3 linked regions of the Homo sapiens genome follow. The protein of the gene in region 2 purifies or fractionates together with the protein of the main gene of each other region. This does not show direct contact. Each region holds a gene or a part of one and is shown on either strand. Other genes may lie near its edges.

Region 1 (7,110 bases), on a different chromosome or scaffold from region 2:
AATTCACAACACTCTGGCCTTTGCTCATTAATCTGAGTATCACTTCTTTCTCTTAGTAATAATTTCCCCTGTTTAGGAACATGGCAGGAAACTTACAACGAGAAAGCATAGTTCACTCTATAAAAGGACCAGTAGGAGGTGCCCTTAATAAGGCCAAGTGTCTAGTTTACTGGCAGAGAAATTCCCATTCAGCCGGGTGTTTTAAAGACTTTGTTGATTGGTAACAAAGGATTATGGAGACTAGCACAATAGCACTGGGCCCTTTCCCACTTTCTAGGTAAAGTCTGAAGCTGCTGTAGATTTGTATGAAACTGTGATGATTTAACAAAGGACAGCCCTGAAAAGTGTCAGTAGAGAGTGAGGACTTGATGTTGGGGGAGGAGGATGGTGACTTTTTAGTTGGCTTCTGTAAGATGTCATCTTCTTATATATTTGACATGAGCCACAGGCACAGGAACCTTATAGAGTCTCAGGGGATCTCAGATAAGATAACAATTTTGGATGTTGGATGTTAATGAGTGAAAAATGAGGCATACATATTAATTAATTCTTCATACATGTTTGGGTTCCATTGCATTGAAAAAAATCTGTGAGTGTTTAATGTAGTCTGGATATGCTGAAATGAGGCTGGTCGCCCTCCCTAGGCGACCTCTTCTCATTCCCCCAACCAAAGCAGATCAGATGCCCCCATGTGGGTTTGCTTTTGAGTGGCGGGAGTATGGCAGAGCCTGAGGGCTCGGGGTAGGCTGGCAGTCCACTCCTCTGTGAGTGCCGCAGTATAAATCACCAGTACCTGTCAGTGTCCATTTCCCACACAGCAGCAGCTGCCCTCTGAGTTATAAAGCATGGGAAACGGCCACCACATGTGTTATATGTGAATATATTAGGCTTAGTGCCTTTGCTTTAATGCTCTTAAAAGCCAGGCTGGCTTGAGATGCTGATAGGCATTTTTTTCTGGGGAGAGATTTATAACTTCTCAGTGTGTATGACTTAAATTTATTCTCTGGCAAGTTAACCTCTTAGCAAACTTCCTTATTGTTTTCATTGAAGAGGAAGAGCCTTAATCCTACCTAAATTCCTGAATGAAGCTCTGCTGAAAGTTTCTGCTAGAGTACAGGATATTTGCAGGCTGTAGTATGGTTTCCTAAACCAATGGGAAGCTTGACAAGATATATGGGGAGGTGATTTTTTGGTGGGGAGGCGGGGATATTTTTACTTGTTTTTAGAGAGGGAAGTTGTGATACTGCATCTTCTAAAGGAATTCTAGCAACTCAGTTATCTCAAAAGCATCTTTAATGAGAGGAAATGTTTCTCGCTTCCAGTTTCATACATCTAACAGTCTGGGATTCTTCAAATGCATATAATATGCTCCTGGAATGTTTGCAGCTGCACGCAGTAGGGTCATCTAGCAGGATCACTGTCATTTGGAAATGAGCCCTGATTTAAATTTTGACTTGCAGACAAAACACTTATCTTTACCTGGTGCGGCATGTTTAAAAGCAGTGCTGAAGTTTCTGAACAGAATATTTCTTTCCATGGGAGACTGTGCCCTAAGATTACATTTTAAAGTAAGTGTTCTTACCATTTCTTTGGAGAATTTGCCATCCCAAACTTTGCATGTGAAACTTCTTCTTCATGATTCTACCAGTAAAGATAACTATTTAAAGAGAATGCAGTTGTTTCCGGGTATTTCTTTAAAATTAAAATTCAATGTCCACATCCACACACAAACAAGGAGGATTTCCACCCCCTCATACCTTCTCCTTCAAATAGCTGACTTTGGTGTGAATTATGATAGCTCTAATTACATAAGGGCACTTGCAATTTCCCTAGAGAATGAGTTCTTGCCTGATTACAGATCTTCCTACTTTCCATAGGAAGTTTCTGGCCCACACTACTATCAGAAACTTGCACCAAATTGGGAACACATTGCTCTGTTTTGGTATTTGCTACCCAGCTATACATTTTTGAAGGATTAATCTACCTCAGATGATAATCTCTTAGATGAACTATATACATAAATTTCAAGAAATCTTAGCTTTGCCTGAGGCCAAAGAATAATGTCACAAACCTGCTGAAATTACTTGATTAATTGATTGATTAACTAAGGATAAAAAGTCACTTGGTTCTGGAAAAGTACTGTACTCCCTAAAGAGTTCTAAAGAGGAATAGTAAATACTATGCACATTTACAATTCATAAAATGTAAACGTCAAGTCTTCTTCCCCCTCTTTTTCCATTCCTTCCTTATAATGCTCTGGAGGAAAATTTAAGAGTTTCATGAGTTGTCACAACAGTTATATCTTAAGGAATCATAGCTTGGAATCTCACTAACTCATGATTAATAGACACTCAATTAAATAGCAACACAATGTCCGGTGAATTTTTCGGCAGCCTGCTGTGGGCTGCTTGCTTGTTTTCAGCTCGTTTCTAAGGAATCAAAACTCTCATCTCTAAGAGGTGTGGCATCAATACTGCCTCCCTTGACGCAGCCCAAGAAAGCCTTTCTCACTCTGAAACCAAGGCTGTGACCCACAGGCACTGTGTTTAATATGCTGTGTTCCACTTTGCAAGGTCAGGGGGATTTGCCTTAAAAATAAATTTTTAAATGTTCATGCATGCTGCTTTTGGTGGAGAGTTAAACTGTACTCTAAAAGCAGCTAAATAGTGTTGTTATCTTAAGACATTCTAACTTGTGGCCTCTCAGCCAATATTATTGAAGTTCTAGAGCTCACAATCTTTAAGAGAGACAGGAGTGAGCTCTATAAGATAATAGGTTATGCCAACCTAGTTAAGCTACTTTTTTCCCCAAAATGGTGTTACCAGGTTGGAATAATAGAACGTTAACCTTTTTCAAAGTTACTACTTTTCAGAGGAAAAAACATTTCTTAATAATATCATAATATCAGTAGCATGGGACTGACCCAATGTATTTAAGATATTGTTCTTCAAAACAAGATATCAAGGAAAGCCAGTGTTAAACTTGTCAAGAAGAAAGGATGAACAATCCAGATTATTTTCCCTGCAGGCCAATAAAAAATGTGCAAGATAGAATTACATGTTGCATATGCCAAATAGGTAATAGCAAAAAATAAAATGTAAAGTATTATGCACCTTTATCATTGCAGGACTCAGGTAAATGAAACACAATTTAGTAACACACTTTTTCTTTCTCTCACTCTAGAATGTTAATTCCTTATCTTATATTTCTCTGGTTTAACTCCAAACTAAGATGGAGAAATACAGGTTGGCTGACTGATGATCAAAATTATTATAGTGCTCCAAAGTTATTTGACAAATTTTAGCCTGAGGTTTAACAACTAAATCCCTTTAATTCAACTATTAAGTGAAAGTGTTTTCTTTGGTAGTTTAGAAATACCTGAGCTTTGTCCCAATGGTGTGGTTTAGAAATACATAATAATGCATAAGATTGAATATGCCTTCTTTTTCAATATTGATGGGAATTTGCCAATGGTAATACCAGTGCATATTGCTCTTTTATTAATAGTTCCAAACAACCATATTATTCACAGCTTTCATTTCTTGGGGGGAAAAGTTCAAGTAGGAAACACACAAATCATTCCATATTTATTGATCATATTTTTAAGGCTATTCTTATGGCATGACTTCTGTAGGAATGTTTCTCTTTTCTAGTAAATTCCACGAGCCCAGTGTCTATGATCTACTTCTACTTCGTGATATACTTTAGCTTAATTTCACTAATCCAAATTTTTTGACTTTTAGCTTGCTCAGTCATTTCACCATGGCCCTCCAGGGAGGAAGACCCTTTAAAACCATTTGTGGTTATGATGATGAAACTTAACAGGAGTATTTATTGCAATTTGGAGATTTCTTCCTGGTTCATCCTTTAAATATTGGTTCTTGCCTGAAGGCTACTCCTAAGAGTATCTAGGACAAACATGTTCCACTGAATTAACTGAATCTTTAGGATGTTATCTGATGAAAATACCAACTGGTTAGTGAATTGTGTTCTGATAAGAGGACTTGTCAATACAACATTATTCTGGGCCATCTACAATGTTCTTAAATCTGTGTTTACATTTTGACAAGAGAAAAAAGAAGTTAAGCAGTTAATATAAATGTTTTTAACTCAAATCACATTTTTAGATTTTACTTATTTTTCTATAGTCTTTTAGAAATATTTCTCCACTCACTTAGCTGCCTCTTTAAAAGTATGTAGAACATAATTTAACCTGTTCTTAATAGATACAATACATCACTATGACTTCATTATAGTATTATGTGATTTTATAGGGATAATTTTTGAAGGCATTGCATCATACAGAACTGTTTATTTTTCCCATCAATTGACCATGGACTGTTACTATTGTTGAGTTTTATCTCTGGCTATAAAATATATTTTGTCTACATCTTGTGTTCAGCTGAAACTTCTCCCTGTATAAAACTTCCTCAAAGCAGTTCTCTCTTTTAGTTTTGATGTTAAGACATAGGGGACTAAGTTTTGTTGGGGTTGTGTTTAAAGTAGGAGAGGAGATTAGAAAACAGCACCTGAATCCCTTATTAGAGGAATATCTAATTAGTTTTAACTAATGATTCTGTAGCATCTGATATTAATTTGGATGTCACTTGTACTTTGTACAACGTATTTTTCCTTATTAAATGAGAATGTGGACTAGATCAACTCTAGTTATTAGTTTCAACACTATATAATTTATTTAAATTATGAACTGTACTATACATATAGTGTTTGGTATAATTAATAATACAATTCATGATCATGATAACAATAATAATAATGTAATAATAACAAATACCCATGTACCCACTAGCAGTTTTCTGATTTTTGTATTAACCCCTTGCCTTTTGTACAGTTTTTCCACATATGTATACATCTTTAACATGTTACTTTACTTGGCTGTTCTTAACAGTAATAAAATAAATATAATGTGTATATTCTCTGACTTGCAATTTTGCTGAACGTTAAGTATCTGAGTTTCATCTATGTGGATTCATATTGCTGTATTTCAGTCACTTTCTCTGGTGTATAATACTTCATGATATTAATTAACCATAGTTTATCTAATCTATTGTTGATGGATTTTGAAATTCAGTTTTTTGCTATTGCTAGTAAAGTTGGCATAAACATTCTGGTGCATGTCCACCAGCACAAATTTGCCACCATGTTTAGGGTGCATACCTAGGAGTGGAATTGCTGAGTCATAGAAGGGTATCTTTTCATCCGGGAGGCAAAGACATGTTGCAGTTACTGAAACCCCCACCAGGGGCAGATGAAAGGCCTCTTTGCTTCATGCCTCTGCCAACACTTGGTATTTTCATATGCTTAATTTGCCCGCATCTGGTAACTTCTCATTGTGGGTTTAATTCGCATTTTCCTGATTGCTTATAAGTCTGAACATTTTTTCCATTAATTTGTTAGCTATTTGTGATGTCAGCAAGACAATTCTATGATTCTGTTTCTTCAACTGAGCAACATTTGCTTTTAGACCTTAATATTATTGGTAGTTATTCTGTTTCTTCTACTAAGCAACCCTTTGCTTTTAGGCATAGATGTTATCAGTAGTCTAATGTTCAGGAAGTTGTCGCCTAATACTTTACCATGTTGACTCTGGCCTAGGCTTTATTTAAGCACCTTCCCAAAATGTACACTGATTTTGAGTTGGAAAAGACATTCTTAGTCACTGTAACATTGTTGATTACCCTGAGCAAGTCCTGCCATGTTAGTATCCTGCCTTATCCTGTTTATTGTGTCTTTATAGAGAATCATTTACAGGGAAGCAGGATGCTGGGATGCCAGGCTTAATTTGAGGCTCCTTATGAATCCCCTGAATATAATGGAACTAAAGGATAACAGAAACACAGAGTAGTAATGGTAGACACCAAATCTGAGTTAAAAATCTTAATATGATCATTTGAATTTGGGTATATTTCCAACATGGTAAAATACATAGGCCCAATATCATTGTTACATTTATGGCATATATAACTGTGGGTTTCAAACAAACGTATGTGCTTTGTGCACCATCCCCCCCAATTTTTGTTTGGGTTTATAATTTTTTCACCTGCTCCCATGGGACAGGCTAATGAAGACCCCTGAATGAAATAAAGCCTCAGATGTACTTGCAGAGGCCTCTGTAGTGTGTTGCCTTCTGTGCAGACTCATTAGAGATGTGAGCCAAGGCTGAGACATCTAAGCAAACCCTCTGCACCCAGAGTCCTCAATCCATTGTTCCTGCATCTTTTTTCAGTCTCATGGGATCCCAGAAGAATACAAATTAGAGAGAAGAATCTGCAAAGCTTTTCCTTTCATGTTTAATGTCTGGGCAGAGCTGTTCCCTGCAGGACAATTTCTGGTTATTTTCTCTCTCTGGTTTGAGGCATCTCCAGGGATGGTTTGGTGACTGTTTCCCTTGGGGAAGTTTTCAGCAGCATATCAGTTTTACTGTTAAAAGTTTATTTTACAATTCATCTGAGATAGTCCTGTTCTAAATGTTCTTTCCATTACCCTTGTCATCTGGCTCTTGATTCCTGCATACCCTTTTCAGTGACACTGCCTCTTCTGGGCTGAAATGTGTTCAATAATTCGAGCTATAAATCACTCTCGCCTCCCCATTTGGTCTTTACTTAACCAGATTATAAATATTTAATTCATTTGATTTTTCCTCATACCACTCCAGAAGCTTAATCATGTTTAGTCTTCTTACTTTAACTCCCTCTAGTTTGTTTATATCTTTCTTGTAATCAAGGGGCCTAACTCTGATGTGCTCTTCTAAGTAAGCTCTCCAGAGTCATATTATAAAATACAAATTCAGCATCATCTTTAGCTTATTGTACAGCCATAGACAAACATATGGTCTCTCAAAACTTGTGTTATCAGTTTTCAGGAAGGACTATCAATGCCTAATAAAATCATTGAGATATTATAAGGACCAAATAAGACCAAGTATTTCATTGAAGATAGTACAATAGTTACTGAGCCTTTACCAACGATTACAAATAGATGAATAAAAGATTTAGATGAGTTTCTGCCCTGCAGGGGCTTTTCCTCCAGTGAAGGTGACAGGCACACACAGAGGTAGGTAGGATACAAGGTAGAACAAAGTACTCACCG
Region 2 (7,110 bases):
CCTCTTTGAGCAGGAGGGCTTAAAGAATACGCACCTCAACTTTACCTTTAAAAAACTCAAAATTCAAAATTTCCAAATTCATAAAGTTCAAATCAGACTGAAATATTTGCAAGGAGCCAGGAGTGGCCCCAGCCTCGCAGCCCCTTCTCGTGGCATGAATACCTGAGCAGAGCAGCTGGGGCCCATACATGCTGCCTCCCAAGGCAGCCACAAGGCCACAGGACCCTCAGAGGAAGCAACTGCTCTGAGTCGGGTTTCTATGGAGTAGGACTGGGCCTATCAGGCCACCCTTCCCTATCTGTTTCCTCACTGGGGCCTCCTGAGAAGGCGATGTACAAGGAGGGGTTCACAATTCTTGAGGGTCAAGAGTAGAAGACTACATGATGCCCACAGGATATAGGGAGGGGCCCATGACCCGCCTTCAGGGTCTGGACAGAGCCATCCTGCGCTGGCACTGAGGACCAGCTCCATCAGTGGAGGAGCGGGAGGTGTCAACCTGGGGACCTTGGAGGAGACAGGGAAGGCAACTCTTTGAATAAAGGGCAAACGTCACCACAGGCAGGATGCCTCTCATAAAGAGACACAAAAGTGCCGACTCCAAGGCTCAGAGGCAGGAGTCTACTACCTTTTACCCTTGGTTTGGGCCTGCCCTGCTCACCCCAAATCCCCAGCCCCAGGAGGACACGCTGCCCCTCAGCAGCCTCCCCTCTCCTTTGCAGAGGAAGGCAGCACTCACCCTAAGCAGGAGGGACTGCAGGTCTTCAGAGTGAGCCCACTGCTCAAAGATGTCGTCCAGGGTCTCAACGTACCAGGAGCCACTCTTGGGGTCCCTCCAGGAAACAAAACCTTTGGAGGGAGGAGGGCTGAACACTGCTGGAGAGCCACCCCTCCGCCGGCTCCCCACCACCCCTCTGGCCATGCACGCTGGCTCGGGCGCCCTCCAGACCTTGACTCATACATACATCCAACAGGAGCAGCCTGGCCCCTGAGGCTCTGCCCTAATCATGATCTTATTTCACCCTCATGACCATCCCCTGATTCCGGCTATAATTCCTGTTTTCCCAGCAAGGAAACCAAGGCTTGGAAAAGTCAAGTGACTCATCCAAGACATAAGAAAGGAAGGAAACTGCCAGGCACAGTGGCTCACACCTGTAATCCCAGCATTTTGGAAGGCCGAGGTGGGCAAATCACTTGAGGTCAGGAATTCTTGACCAGCCTGGCCAACATGGTGAAACCCTGTGTCTACTAAAAATACAAAAATTAGCTGGGTGTGGTGATGCATGCCTGTAATCCCAGCTACTTAGGAGGCTAAGGCAGGAGAATTACTTCAACCCGGGAGGTGGAGGTTGCAGTGAGCTGAGATCATGCTACTGAACTCCAGCCTGGGCGACAAAGCAAGACTCCGTCTCAAAAAAAAAAAAAAAAAGGCTGGGCGCGGTGGCTCACGCCTGTAATCCCAGCACTTTGGGAAGCCGAGGCAGGTGGATCACGAGGTCAGGAGATCGAGACCATCGTGGCTAACACGGTGAAACCCCATCTCTACTAAAAATACAAAAAATTAGCCAGGCGTGGTGGCAGGTGCTTGTAGTCCCAGCTACTTGGGAGGCTGAGGCAGGAGAATGGTGTGAACCCGGGATGCAGAGCTTGCAGTGACCCAAGATCGCGCCACTGCACTCCAGCCTGGGCAACAGAGCGAGATTCCATCTCAAAAAAAAAAAAAAAAAAAAAAAAGAAGGAAGGAAACTACCGCTTGCTGCAACTACTACGTGCCCCGCACTGTGCTCAGTGACGTGCCAGCCACCTTGTTTAATTCCCATGGAAACCCCTGAGGCACGATTCCTATTCCCCTGCTAAAGATGCGAAGGCAGAGGCAGGGTCAGGCAGAGGAGAGGCAAGTGAGGCATAGGAACCCAAGGGCGCAGGCCTCCTTGCAGCGCGCATCCTTGCCCGCTCAGCCTGAGCCGAGGCTCAGAGAGAAGTAACTTGCTCAGGGTCACAGAGGGGCAAAAGACAGAACCAGGACTCATACCCTGGTCTTTTCTCTCACCACACAGCTGCCTCTAGGGCAGACGGGAAGACCCACTGGCTGCGAGGACGAGCCCTTCTGATGTGCTCACCTGGGAAAGTAGAGTAGGACACAAAGATGTCACTGGGTGTGGGCAAACTAGATATGGCGTCCAGCTGGTCGAAGGTCCTCAAACCTTCCTGGAACGGGGTGGCATCTGGCTCGGGGTTACTGCCAGGGGACTCGTCTTCAGGGGAAGTGGAGGCCACCTCAAACCCATGGTCTTTCTGCTCTGCAGGAAGCAGAAACAAACACCTCTTGTCATTGAAATACACAGACAAGGATGGTTCAACATATGAAAGTCGGTGCAATATACTACATTAACAGTGTGAAAGGAAAATAAATCTTGGGACCCCAAACTCATTAAGCCAAACGGAAAAGTCAAGCTGGGAACTGGGTCACGCAAACCTGCCTCCCCGTTTTGGTTCCTAAATAAGATGGCTACAAGATGAAAAGCTACACACCTCTCCCATATTTTGCCCACAAGGAAATTCCTGGTGAGCTCCAAGATAGTTGTCTGATAAAATTCACCACGGCAATGTAAATGGATAGCTTATCTTTACAGAGGCATCACCCCTCTGCCCACCTGGCACAAATGCATATCTGATTATTCCCCTGCCCCATTTGTCTTTGTTATCTTACGTAAAAATGCAGGTTCCCTGCATTTTCCCCTGCCCTATGTTACCTTACGTAAAAATGCAAATTCACTGAGCCAGACAAATGCTTGAATGACTATTTCCCCCTACCCTGCTCTTACCTGAAAACTGTGTACTTCTCAATATCCTGCCCTTTCCCCTTTAAATTTGGAACCCTAAAATTCATGTTCAGAGAAAGGCATAGACCTGTCTCCTGGGCGTGCATCCTTAACTTTGGCAAAAGAAACTTCTTAAATTGACTGAGACCTGTCTCAGATTTTTGGGGTTCATAAGAGAATGAAAAAAACCCTACATCATCATCTCAATTGATGCAGAAAAAAGCACATGACAAAATTCAACAAGCTTTCATGATAAAAACAGTCAACAAACTCAGAATAGAAGGAAACTACCTCAACATAGTAAAAGCCATATATGAAAAACCCACAGCAAACATTATACTCAATGGTGAAAGACTGAAACCTTTTTCTATAAGATCAGGAAGAAGGCAAGAATTTCTGCTTTTGCCACTTCTATTCAACACATTACTAGAAGTTAATAGAGCAAGGAGGCAAGAAAAAGAAATAAAAGACATTCAAATTGGAAAGAAGGAGTAAAATTATCTCTACTCACAAATGGTATGATTTTATATGCAGAAAACCCTAAAGATGAAACACTATTAGAACAAATAAAATTAGCATATTAGCAGGATACGAAGCCAACCACAAAAAATACTTCCATTTCTATACACTAACAATGAACAATCAGAAAAAGAAATTACAAAAATGGTTCCATTGACAATAGCATCAAAAATAATAAAATAGTTAGAAATTAACTTAACCAAGATGAAAGACTTGTAAAATGAAAACTACAAAACATTGCTGAAAGAAAGAAGGCTGGATGCCATGGCTCACGCCTGTAATCTCAACACTTTGGGAGGCTGAGGCAGGAGGATCCCTTGAGCCCAGGAGTTCCAGACCAGCAAAACCTCATCTCTACACATAATAAAAAATTTAGCCAGGTGTGGTGGCATGTGCCTGTGGTCCCAGCTACTCGTGAGGCTGAGGTGGGAGAACCACTTGAGTCCAAGCAGTTGAGGCTGCAGTGTGCAGTGATCGCGCCACTGCACTTCAGCCTGGGTGACAAAGCAAGACCCAGTCTCAAAAAAGAAAAAGAGCCGGGCACAGTGGCTCACACCTGTAATCCCAGCACTTTGGGAGGCCAAGGCAGGCAGATCACCTGAGGTCAGGAGTTTGAAACAAGCCTGGCCAACATGGTAAAACCCCGTCTCTATTAAAAAATACAAAAATTACCCAGGCGTGGTGGTGGGCACCTGTAATCCCAGCTACTTGGGAGGCTGAGGCAGGAAAATCACTTGAATCCAGGAGGCGGAGGTTGCAGTGAGTCAAGATCGTGCCATTGCACTCCAGCCTGGGCAACAGAGCAGGACTCCATCTAAAAAAAAAAAAAAAAAAGAAAGAAAGAAAGAAAGAAAAATAAAGAAGACATAGGCCAGGCACAGTGGCTCACGCCTGTAATCCCAGCACTTTGGGAGACCGAGGCTGGTGGATCACTAGGTCAGGAGATTGAGACCATCCTAGCCAACATGGTGAAACCCCGTCTCTACTAAAAATATAAAAATTAGCTGGGCGTGGTGGCGTGTGCCTGTAATCCCAGCTACTCAGGAGGCTGAAGCAGGAGAATTGCTTGAACCAGGGAGTCAGAGGTTGCAGTGAGCCGAGATGGCGCCACAGTCCTCCAGTCTGACAACAGAGCGAGACTCTGTCTCAAGAAAAAAAAAAAAAAGATATAAATAAATGGAAATATATCCTATGTTCATGGATTAGAAAACTTAAAGATCTCAATACTACCCAAAGCAATCCATAGATTAAATGTAATCCCTATCAAAACCCCAATGATGTTTTTTGCAGAAATAGAAAATCTATCCTAAAATTCACACGAGAATCTCAAGGGACCCCAAATAGACAAAACAATCTGGAAAAAGAGCAAAATTGGAGGACTCACACTTCCTGATTTCAAAACTTACTACAAAGCTACAGTAATCAAAACAGTATGGTACTGGCATAAAGACAGACATAGGTCAATGTCATTGAATAGAGCCCAGACATACACCCTCACATGCGTGGTCAAATGAATTTTGAAAAGGGTGGCAGGACCATTCAGTGGGGAGAGGGCAGTGGTTTTTTGTTTTGTTTTGGGGGATTGTTTTTTGTTTTTGTTTTTGTTTTTTGAGAGAGTCTCATTCTGTCACCCAGGCTGGAGTGCAGTGGTGCAATCACAGCTCACTGCAGCCTTGACCTGCCAGGCTCAAGTGATCCCCCACCTCAGCCTCTCAAGTAGCTGGGACTACAGGTGCCACCACACCCAGTTAATTTTTGTATTTTTTGTAGAGACAGGATCTTGCCATGTTGCCCGGGCTGGTCTCAAACTCCTGGGCTCAAGCAATCTGCCTGCCTTGGCCTCCCAAAGTGCTGGGATTACAGGCATTTTTTTTTTTAAGAGACACACTTTTGCTCTGTTGCCCAGATTGAAGTGGCATGATCTTAACTCGCTCCAGCCTCAAACTCCTGAGCTCAAGCAATCACCCCAAAAAAATGGTTAAGATAGTAAATTTTATGTTATATGTATTTTGCCACAATTTTTAAAAAGACATAAAACTTGTCTTTTTTTAGAAATATAGTTGAGGAAACTGTCCACTATATCATAGGCACTCACTCAAACCCTTTACTCAGGCTGTCAAGATCACAGTGTCCCCTTTAAGACAACCAAGGGAAGAAATGTGTCTGGAGTCTCTATTCCTGACTTCTGTCTTGCAAATACCAGATATAGAACTATAGAACACCAGATTCCATGGATCTTGAAAGTGATCTTTTTTTTTTTTTTTTTTTTTTTTTGAGACAGAGTCTCGCTCTGTCATCCAGGCTGGAATGCAGTGGCGCGATGGCTCACTGCAAGCTTCGCCTCCTGGGTTCAAGCGATTCTCCTGTCTCAGCCTCCCAAGTAGCTGGGACTACAGGCGTGTGCCACCACACCTGGCTAATTATTTGTAGAGATGGGGCTTCACTGTGTTAGCCAGGATGGTCTTGATCTCCTGACCTCGTGATCTGCCCGCCTCAGCCTCCCAAAGTGCTGGGATGACAGGCGTGAGCCACCGCCCCTGGCCAATGATCTTATTTCCAATGGCGGCTGGAAAGCGTAAAAAATGCGCAGGCCACCTCTAGCAAGTAGCTATCAGTATTCCATTTTATGTAATTAGGCAACTGAGACTGAGATAAGTTAAGGGGTTTCCCCCCAGACAGAGGCTGACTGGGACTTTGACCTACCTCATTTTTGAGTCTACTATTACCAATGGCTGGGATTTTTCCATGTTTCTTTACATCTGCAAAGTGATTTTATCTCTAAAATCAGTCGTTGTATACCTTAAATTTTTAATTCACTTGTACATTAGAGAACTGTAGAAAGCTGCAGGACATCCTAGGATGTATTTTTGGAATCCAAACTTTTACTTTTCTTCTCTCCTTGTGTTCCCTCTCTATTTTGTCCTAGTGTTATCATTTGTACTTCTTGCACTATGGCAAATCCTTTTCTAGAATCAAAGAAGCCATCAGAAAAATACCAAATAGACACCAAGTCATGGATAATGAAATCCATGGAGATGTTTACACCTTCTAATCCAGTAATTTCCTAAGAAAATAATTCAAATGCAGTCAAAAGCTTTCTATATGAAGACACCTGTGGTTGTGTGAGCCAAAAATTAGATATCACCTAAATGGCCGACATTAGGAAAATGGTTTAGTAAATTAGTGCATGTCATGAAAATGGCCCATTATAAAGCCATTTGAGCTAGTGATGATGAAGGCCATGGAGATCTGGGGAACTGCTTAAGGGATAACGTTAGCTGAGAAAAGCAGACTGTGCTCATGGGCTGGAATCCAAAAGGAAGATGCAAAAATGAGATGGCTGTATTAGCTTATAACATTCTGAATTATTTTCTTTTTTAGGTTGCCATATTTTTTGTCTTTTCCATTTTAAAATCTAGACTCCCCAAAGGCAGTGCCAAGCTTGGAAAACAGAGAGGTCCTGGCAGGACTTGTGCCCCACATGGCTCAGCTACAGAGCTACTGAAGTGGAGACACTGACGGAGGTCTTCCGGGATGAGGTCTTCTGCAGTAGGGCTCATGGTGGGTGGGGTAAGGCGGAGCACAGAGGGCTACTCAGGAAAGAAGGCATCTAACAAGAGCTTTGGTTAAAAAATATAAATATATATTTAACTATGTATACATACTGCAGAAAAAAAAAGAGAAATTTTTTTAAAAATAGGCTGAAGTTGGAGTAGGAGTGATCCAGAGGGTCCCCTGCAAAAACACTCCTGGAGAATGTGACTGTGATCCA
Region 3 (7,110 bases), on a different chromosome or scaffold from region 2:
CGTCTCAGGGTCTTACAAAGACTCTTCACTGCAGAGTGGCTCAGCGAGTTTCCACTTAGGTCCAGCTCCTTCAGGTTTCTGGTGACCTTGAGGACGGAGAAGAGAATCTGCCAATAGGCATCTGTGACTGGGACCCACCTGAACCTGAGGGGGAGAGAGAAGGACAGGAGAGATGTGATGTGTCTGGCAGGGGTTTGAGGTGCCCAGCCCTGCACAACACAGTTGGGCTTTGTCCCCCTGAGCACCAGGCCACAGCGGGTAGTGCCATCTCCAGTACTGACCAGCCCTCCCTGCCTGTCTGCCCGTCACCCAGGGCTAGGTCCCTCTCCTCCATGTGGCTCCTCATTCTACAGCCCTTACCATAGCACACTGAAGTGTTCACCTTGTGTGTCTGTTTCTGCCTCAGTCTGGGAGTTCCTTGAGGGCAGGGACAGACATTTGTCTTTTTTTTTTTTTTTTTAAATCTGCACTGCTCAGCATAGGGCCTGGCCTCGGTGCTGAGCACTGCAGATAAGAAAAAAATTTTTTAAAAAAATTTGACAATTTTAATTTAAAAAAAATTTGACAGCCTTCCTCCCTTTGATGCAGACACACCTGTGTTCCTTTGGCACAGACATTCTGGAGTCCCAGTGCCCAGGAAAGAAGACGGGAGGCAGTAGCAGAGCCTGGGAGAGATGGCCTGAGGATGTTGTGATGGAAGACTGTATATGATCATATGCACTGCTGTCCAGGTTGGCTCACATGGGACCCTATCCCCTTCCCAGGATAACAAGAGGGTCTGCAGGAGAGGGATGGCTGTGGGGAGTGCCCTAGGAGAGAATATTTGCAGCCTGAGGGGAAGAGATGACGGGCTTTGTCTGAGGGTGTTAGAGTAGACTCCGACTCATGGAATTTCCACCCATTTAATCTGTTTTCACACACTACTTTAGTGACCTCATCTACCTCCAAGGCTTCAACTACTCAAATCTCTATTCCAAGTTTCAGACTGAGTTTTCTATTTTCTGGTTGGATATCCCCACCTTGACATCCCAGTAATTCTTTGATCTAATTTGTCCCAACAAGTCCCCAACCTGAATTCATCTTTTCCCCTAAGTCTGCAGAGCCATGTGGGGGCAAGAAGCAGAGGCAAGGAGCTGCCTGCATGTGGGCTCTGCTTCTCTATCCCTCACTCCGTCTCCTCCGCTGCAAAAAGAGGACAGCAATAGCACCTGCTGCAGAGGGGTATGTGAGAATTAAAAGCTACTAAAGAGTATCCCAAAAGTCCTAGAGCAGTTTTAAGTTTTAATAACTGTGAAAGTACAAGTACTACAAACATATAAAAAAAGCCAGCTGAGTGCAGTGGCTCTAGCCTGTAATCCCAGTACTTGAGGAGGTAGAGGCAGGAGGATCGATTGAGCCCAGGAGTTTAAGACCAGCCTGGGCAACATAGTAAGATCCTGTTTCTACAAAAAATAAAAAAAATTAGGCAATGTGGTGGTGTGCACCTGTAGTCCCAGCTACTCAGGAGGCTGAGGCAGGAGAATGGCTTGAACCTGGGAGGCCAAGGTTGCAGTGAGGTATGGTCATGCCACTGCACTATTCCTGGGAGACACAGTGAGATCCCATCACACACACACACACACACACACACACACACACACACACGAAAAAAAGCCATAAATGAAAGCTTACTTGAATTTCTTTTACACTTACTTAGTTTTGTGAAACTTGAAAAATACATTTTAAATTTTTTATTTCCGTTGGCATTTGCCATCCTTAATCAAGGTGACTGAAAAAAAATTAAAAATTTATACTTGAAAATGCACAATGCTTAATCACATGCCAAACACCTGGAAGCTCCCATCCTGTCATCTTCATTTCTTTAATATCTCTGGTTGGTTCTCCTCTTCCTTCACACAGCCCTTGGCCAACCTCCACCCTTTCTTCCTGAACTTTCTTGTTTTTTTTATAGTAGCTTCCTTATTCTTCTCTCTGCCTTGTCTAGCTGATTCAGTTCCTTGAAAATTTCTCCTCCCACTTGTGGCTGAAGCCTCTGACTTTCCCACGGCATTCTCTTAAGGCTCCACTTGCTCCCGCCCATCCCAAACTCTCCTCTCTGGCCTGGTGTTCTTGGTTCCCTTTGCCTATCCCAGCCCCCATCCCCCGGCCAGCCACCATCTGGTCTCTGCCTCTAGCTGCTTGGAACTCTTTGAAGATTTCCCACCTGTCCACTGCTACTTGCAGTACCTGTATCCAGGTCCTTTAAAGCCTACCTCACATTTATAACTATGAACAACTAGAAGCAGCTTAAAATGGCCAAGAACAGGAGAATGGTCAAATCAGCCATGGCACTTTCCCTATGGAATAGCATGTGGTCATTCAAAATGGTGTTGTATCAGACTACTTAAAAATATATAAAGGGCTGGCATGGTGGCTCATGCCTGTGATCCCAGCACTTTGGGAGGCTGAGGCAGAAGGATCATTTGAGGTCAGGAGTTCAAGACCAACCTGGCCAACATGGTGAAACCCCGTTTCTACTAAGACGACAAAAAATTAGCTGGGTGTGGTGGTGCGTGCCTGTAATCCCAGCTACTCTGGAGGCTGAGGCATGAGAATTGCTTGAACCTGGGAGGCAGAGGTTGCAGTGAGCAGAGATCGTGCCACCGCATGCCAGCCTGGTGACAGAGCAAGACTCTGTCTGTCTCTGTCTCTGTCTCTCTCTCTACACACACACACACACACACACACACACACACACACACACACACACATGAAGGGCTGGGCATGGTGGCTCACATCTGTGATCCCAGCACTTTGGGAGGTCAAGGTGAGCAGCTTGCTTGAGCCCAGGAGTTTGAGACCAGCTTGGTCAACACAGTGAAATCTCATCTCTATACAAAAAATATACAAAAATTATCGCTGCATGTTGGCATGCTCCTGTAGTCTCAGCTCCTAGCGGGGCTGAGGTAAGAGGATCCCTTAAACTCGGGTGGTCCAGGCTGCAGTGAGCTGTGATTGCACCACTGCACTCCAGCCTAGGGGACAGAGCGAGACTCCGTCTCAGACAACAACAAACCAAAAAAAAAAAAAAATACCCCACACCCACTCACAAGAAGATAGCCTTGATATATAAAGAAAATAAAACTGACTATAAAATAAAATGTACAATATGGTTCGATTTCGCCATAGACATGTGCACAGAAAAAAGACTGGGGTTCTTACAATTGACCACTAATTTTTTTTTTTTTTGAGACTGAGTTTTGCTCTTTTTCCCAGGCTGGAGTGAAGTGGCACAATCTCAGCTCACTGCAACCTCTGCCCCTGACCTGTCAAGTGATTCTCCTGCCTCAGCCTCCTGAGTAGCTGGGATTACAGGCGCCTGACACCATTTTCGGCTAATTTATGTATTTTTAGTAGAGATGGGGTTTCACCATGTTGACCAGGCTGGTCTCGAACTCCTGACCTCAGGTGATCCACCTGCCTCGGCCTCCCAAAGTGCTGGGATTACAGGTGTGAGCCACCACACCCAGCCAATTTTTAATGATGGTTATTACAGAATGATGGAATTCTTATTGATACTATTTTTCATCTTTTTGCTTATCTACGTTATCTTTTGTTTGTTTGTTTTTTGAGACGGAGTCTGGCTCTGTTGCCCAGGTTGGAGTTCAGTATCACGATCTCAGCTCATTGCAAACTCCGTCTCCCAGATTCAAGTGATTCTCATGCCTCAGTCTCCCTAATAGCTGGGATTACAGGCGTGTGCCACCATGCCCAGATAATTTTTGTATTTTTTGGTAGAGATGGGGTTTTGCCATGTTGGCCAGGCTGGTCTCGAACTCCTGGCCTCAAGTGATCCTCCTGCTTCAGCCTCCCAAAGTACTGGAATTACAGGTGTGAGCTACTTCACCCAGCCTACATATCTTTTTTTTTTTCCTATAATGAACATGAATTTTATTGTGAGAAAAAGTTTTAAAAATATAAATATGAAGGCCCACATCAAACATTTCTTCCTCTGAGAATCTTTATTACCCACTCGTGTGATCACTCCCTTCCTTGGGCCACCACAGTACCTTGTCCATACCTCTACTGTTGTAGACATCACACTCTGTTGTCATTAAATGAATGTTTGTCTTCTCCCCTATTTTTTGAGCTCCTTAAGGCACGTATTGTGCTTTTTAATCTGTGATCTGTAGGGCCTGGCATAGAATCAGTGCTTAATAAATACTTATGGAATGAATCATCTAAAGCAGGACATAGACACATACCAATAGCATGTGATCGATACCACGACAGAGGTCGGGGAACCGGGATGGGGAAGTTCTCAGTACTGCCGGGCTGGAGAATGGTTGGAGGAAGCTATTCTTGCACAGCCAGAGAGTGGGTTTCAGGTTGAGTGCGTGGGGCAATGGTGGCACCACGGTCACAAATAATTATGAAGTCAGTTTTGCAGGGAAAAATAGGAAACTCTTTTTGAGAGCTGATGGGGAAGATCTCAGGGCCAATGTCGTTGTCATGGAAAGGGTTCCTGAAGCAGCTGGAGGAGCAATTTCTCCGAGAGAATGAATGCCCAGAGAGAGGAGCAGGGGTAGGGGGGCTGCCTGATCCTTGGGGAGTGTGGGGGTAGCTAAGGTCAGCAGGAAGGTGGGAGCACGTCCAGGAGAGAAGATGGACGGTCATTCTAAGGGTAGGAGGAGAGGTGGCAGACACGGCAGGGCCCAGTGGCCTCTCCAGAAGCAAGCAGGGCCTGCCCCACAGCCGGGCACTGCAGAGGAGCTTAGGTAGACAGAGCATGGTGGTCAGATTGGGCAGTTAGAAGTCACTGGAGACCCTGATCCTTTAGCCACCCCCACCCCCGGCCAGGCTCAGTGAGCATGCCTCTGGTGCTCAGGTCACTCGGGCTTATGGACTGACAGAGGAGCTGCAGACATGGGTGGTTTGGGTACTCACAGGACTACCATGGTGGGGCTCCATGTTGATCTGTGCTGCCTGCCCTCAATCAGCTGAAGCTTCTTCACGTGGCGGCTGAATTTAATGCAGAAAGTGCACACTAAGAGCTCCATGTCTGTTTCTACACACATGCCCATTTCTTCGAAATGGGCCATCACTTGTGTCAGGAACGTTTTGTTCCGAGTCTCGTACAAGCAGTGGAGGGACTCCAGAGAGTGTGGCTGCAGCAGCAGCTGCAGGGACGGGACCCACTGCATCAGGTTCCTCCCCTGAGACAGCCGGCAGTGAAAGATGTTCTCCATCTCTCTCTCCCCCTCATCACTTAACAGGCCCAATAGGAAACGTGTGGTTGATGCCCCAAACAGGCCATGTATTCCATATGCTTCTAGCGTCTTTTCCAAATCTATGATGCAATTAGAATGTTTACCTCTCCCCTTCTCATCCTCCAAGACATAGGACATTGCTGCAAAGAACTCTTGGAAACAGAGGTGAATGAAGCTGTAGCTCAGAGGGATGGGGTGCTCTTGAAGAATACCCATCTTCAAGAAGGTGGAGATGATGGCCCCATCTAACCCATGCTTCCTGAGGTCATCTGGACTGAAAAGGGTCTTTTTTTGCCAGATGCCCTCAGCAGCCAGAGAGCAGAGGTCTCTGAGCTGGGGTCCCAATGGCTGAGCTTGGAGAGCCTGGGCAAGGTAATGTAGACAGAGGGTTGTGGTGGTCTTGGAAGTCAGTGTGAGTTTTTCCTTCCGCTTCATCTGCTGCATCAGGCAAGTGCAGGCCAGCCAGGACACCCAGGGCACAAGACACAGGGCCCAGAGCTCTTTGTTTGATTTGACCAACCTAAAGGCTCTAATTGCTTGCCTTTCATCTGTGAAATATCTGTAGAAATATTCCTTCCTGCTGGACTCAGAGAACCCCAGGACCTCTACCCAACGTGCCTGCTCCAAAGAAGGAATGAGGTTCTGCAGAGCTGTGGTCCGAGCCGTGATCAGGAAGGATGCCTCGGGAAGTATAGTTTTCCCCAGCAAACTGCCCAGCAGTGCATCCGCCGGCTGTGGCTGGCTCCAGTGCAGACAGAGCTCAGAACTCGGCTCCTGCAAGACCCATCCTGGCTCATCTACACCATCGAGGATGAAGAGCAGCCGCTCTGGCCTAGACAGGATCTGTCTAATGGGAGCCGGAGTGGCTGTCCCATCTTTTCCGATGAGCTCAGCGAGACTCACCACCTTGGACTGGGCCAGCTCTCTGCAGCTGAAGTAGAAGACATGCTGGAAGCGGTCCCCATACAGCTGGCCTCTCCCCCAGGCTTCCTTCACCTGCCTGGCCAGTGTTGACTTCCCAATTCCAGCAGCCCCCTGCAGTATGACTATGCGAGGTTCTTGGGTATCCAGGCCTGGGCCAAATAAGTCTCTGATCTCAATTAAATGTCCTCGATTCTCCTCCACATAATCAGGCCAGCTTCTCTTGACCAGGGGATCTTGGCTTCTGGGGTGAGGTCTTTGTAGAAGTAGCAGCTGTGTGAATTTTTGGTTAAAATCCTCATTTTTCCAGGGCCATGTGGAACAGAGGCTCTCTCTCACAGAAGGCTCCCATGGGTGGTGGTGGGGCTGTAGGCTGGTGTGCGCCTGTGGGGGCGTTCCTACCACCGCTGCCCATGGGGGCCTGCCTTTCTCTGATTTCTCTCTCTCTCTTTCTCTGATTTCTAAGTAAGGGAGGGAAAGAAGGAACATAAAGGTAGAGAATAGAAGAATTAATTAATTAATTAAACAACTGTTTTAGGCACCTACTCCAAGCCACACACTGCGCTGTCTGCAGACACTGGTATGTTCTTGCCATGCGGCGGAAGGACATGTGCTTTGGGGTAGAATATCCCAGTTCAAGTCTTGACTCAACTAAGTCACACTCCCTGAATGACTTTCCTTCACTGAATATTTATCAAGGGCTTACTCTGTGCCAGGTGCTGCTATAGGGGTTGGGGATAAAGAGTGAACAAAACAGACACAACTCTCAGTCCTCACTAAGCTTATGATGCTGGCCATTAGCCCCTATGAGCCTCAGTTTTCTCATCTGTAAGCTGGGGGTTGTAGGTCATGGAGGACTGGAGGAGACACTGGAGTGTGTAGCAGATGCTGACAGCATCCCAAGCACCTGCTATTGCAGTACCTGCCAATGGTGTCCCTC

The links.
Region 1: the proteins of CASP9 (region 2) and DCC purify together in Homo sapiens (co-immunoprecipitation; 3 studies listed by BioGRID and IntAct, with this or other methods). This does not show direct contact.
Region 3: the proteins of CASP9 (region 2) and NLRP1 purify together in Homo sapiens (affinity purification with western blotting; 2 studies listed by BioGRID). This does not show direct contact.

Annotation. Positions count from the first base shown.
Region 1 is NC_000018.10:52,343,158-52,350,267, forward strand, and holds part of DCC (netrin receptor DCC), read left to right. Parts: intron 1-7,110. UniProt on the Homo sapiens protein: Receptor for netrin required for axon guidance. Mediates axon attraction of neuronal growth cones in the developing nervous system upon ligand binding. Its association with UNC5 proteins may trigger signaling for axon repulsion.
Region 2 is NC_000001.11:15,493,156-15,500,265, forward strand, and holds part of CASP9 (caspase-9 isoform alpha precursor), read right to left. Parts: intron 2,298-7,110; coding exon 2,118-2,297; intron 847-2,117; coding exon 737-846; coding exon of another isoform or gene 629-736; exon of another isoform or gene 1-628. UniProt on the Homo sapiens protein: Involved in the activation cascade of caspases responsible for apoptosis execution. Binding of caspase-9 to Apaf-1 leads to activation of the protease which then cleaves and activates effector caspases caspase-3 (CASP3) or caspase-7 (CASP7).
Region 3 is NC_000017.11:5,553,413-5,560,522, forward strand, and holds part of NLRP1 (NACHT, LRR and PYD domains-containing protein 1), read right to left. Parts: intron 6,632-7,110; coding exon 4,927-6,631; intron 1,187-4,926; exon of another isoform or gene 1,094-1,186; intron 732-1,093; exon of another isoform or gene 589-731; intron 145-588; coding exon 1-144.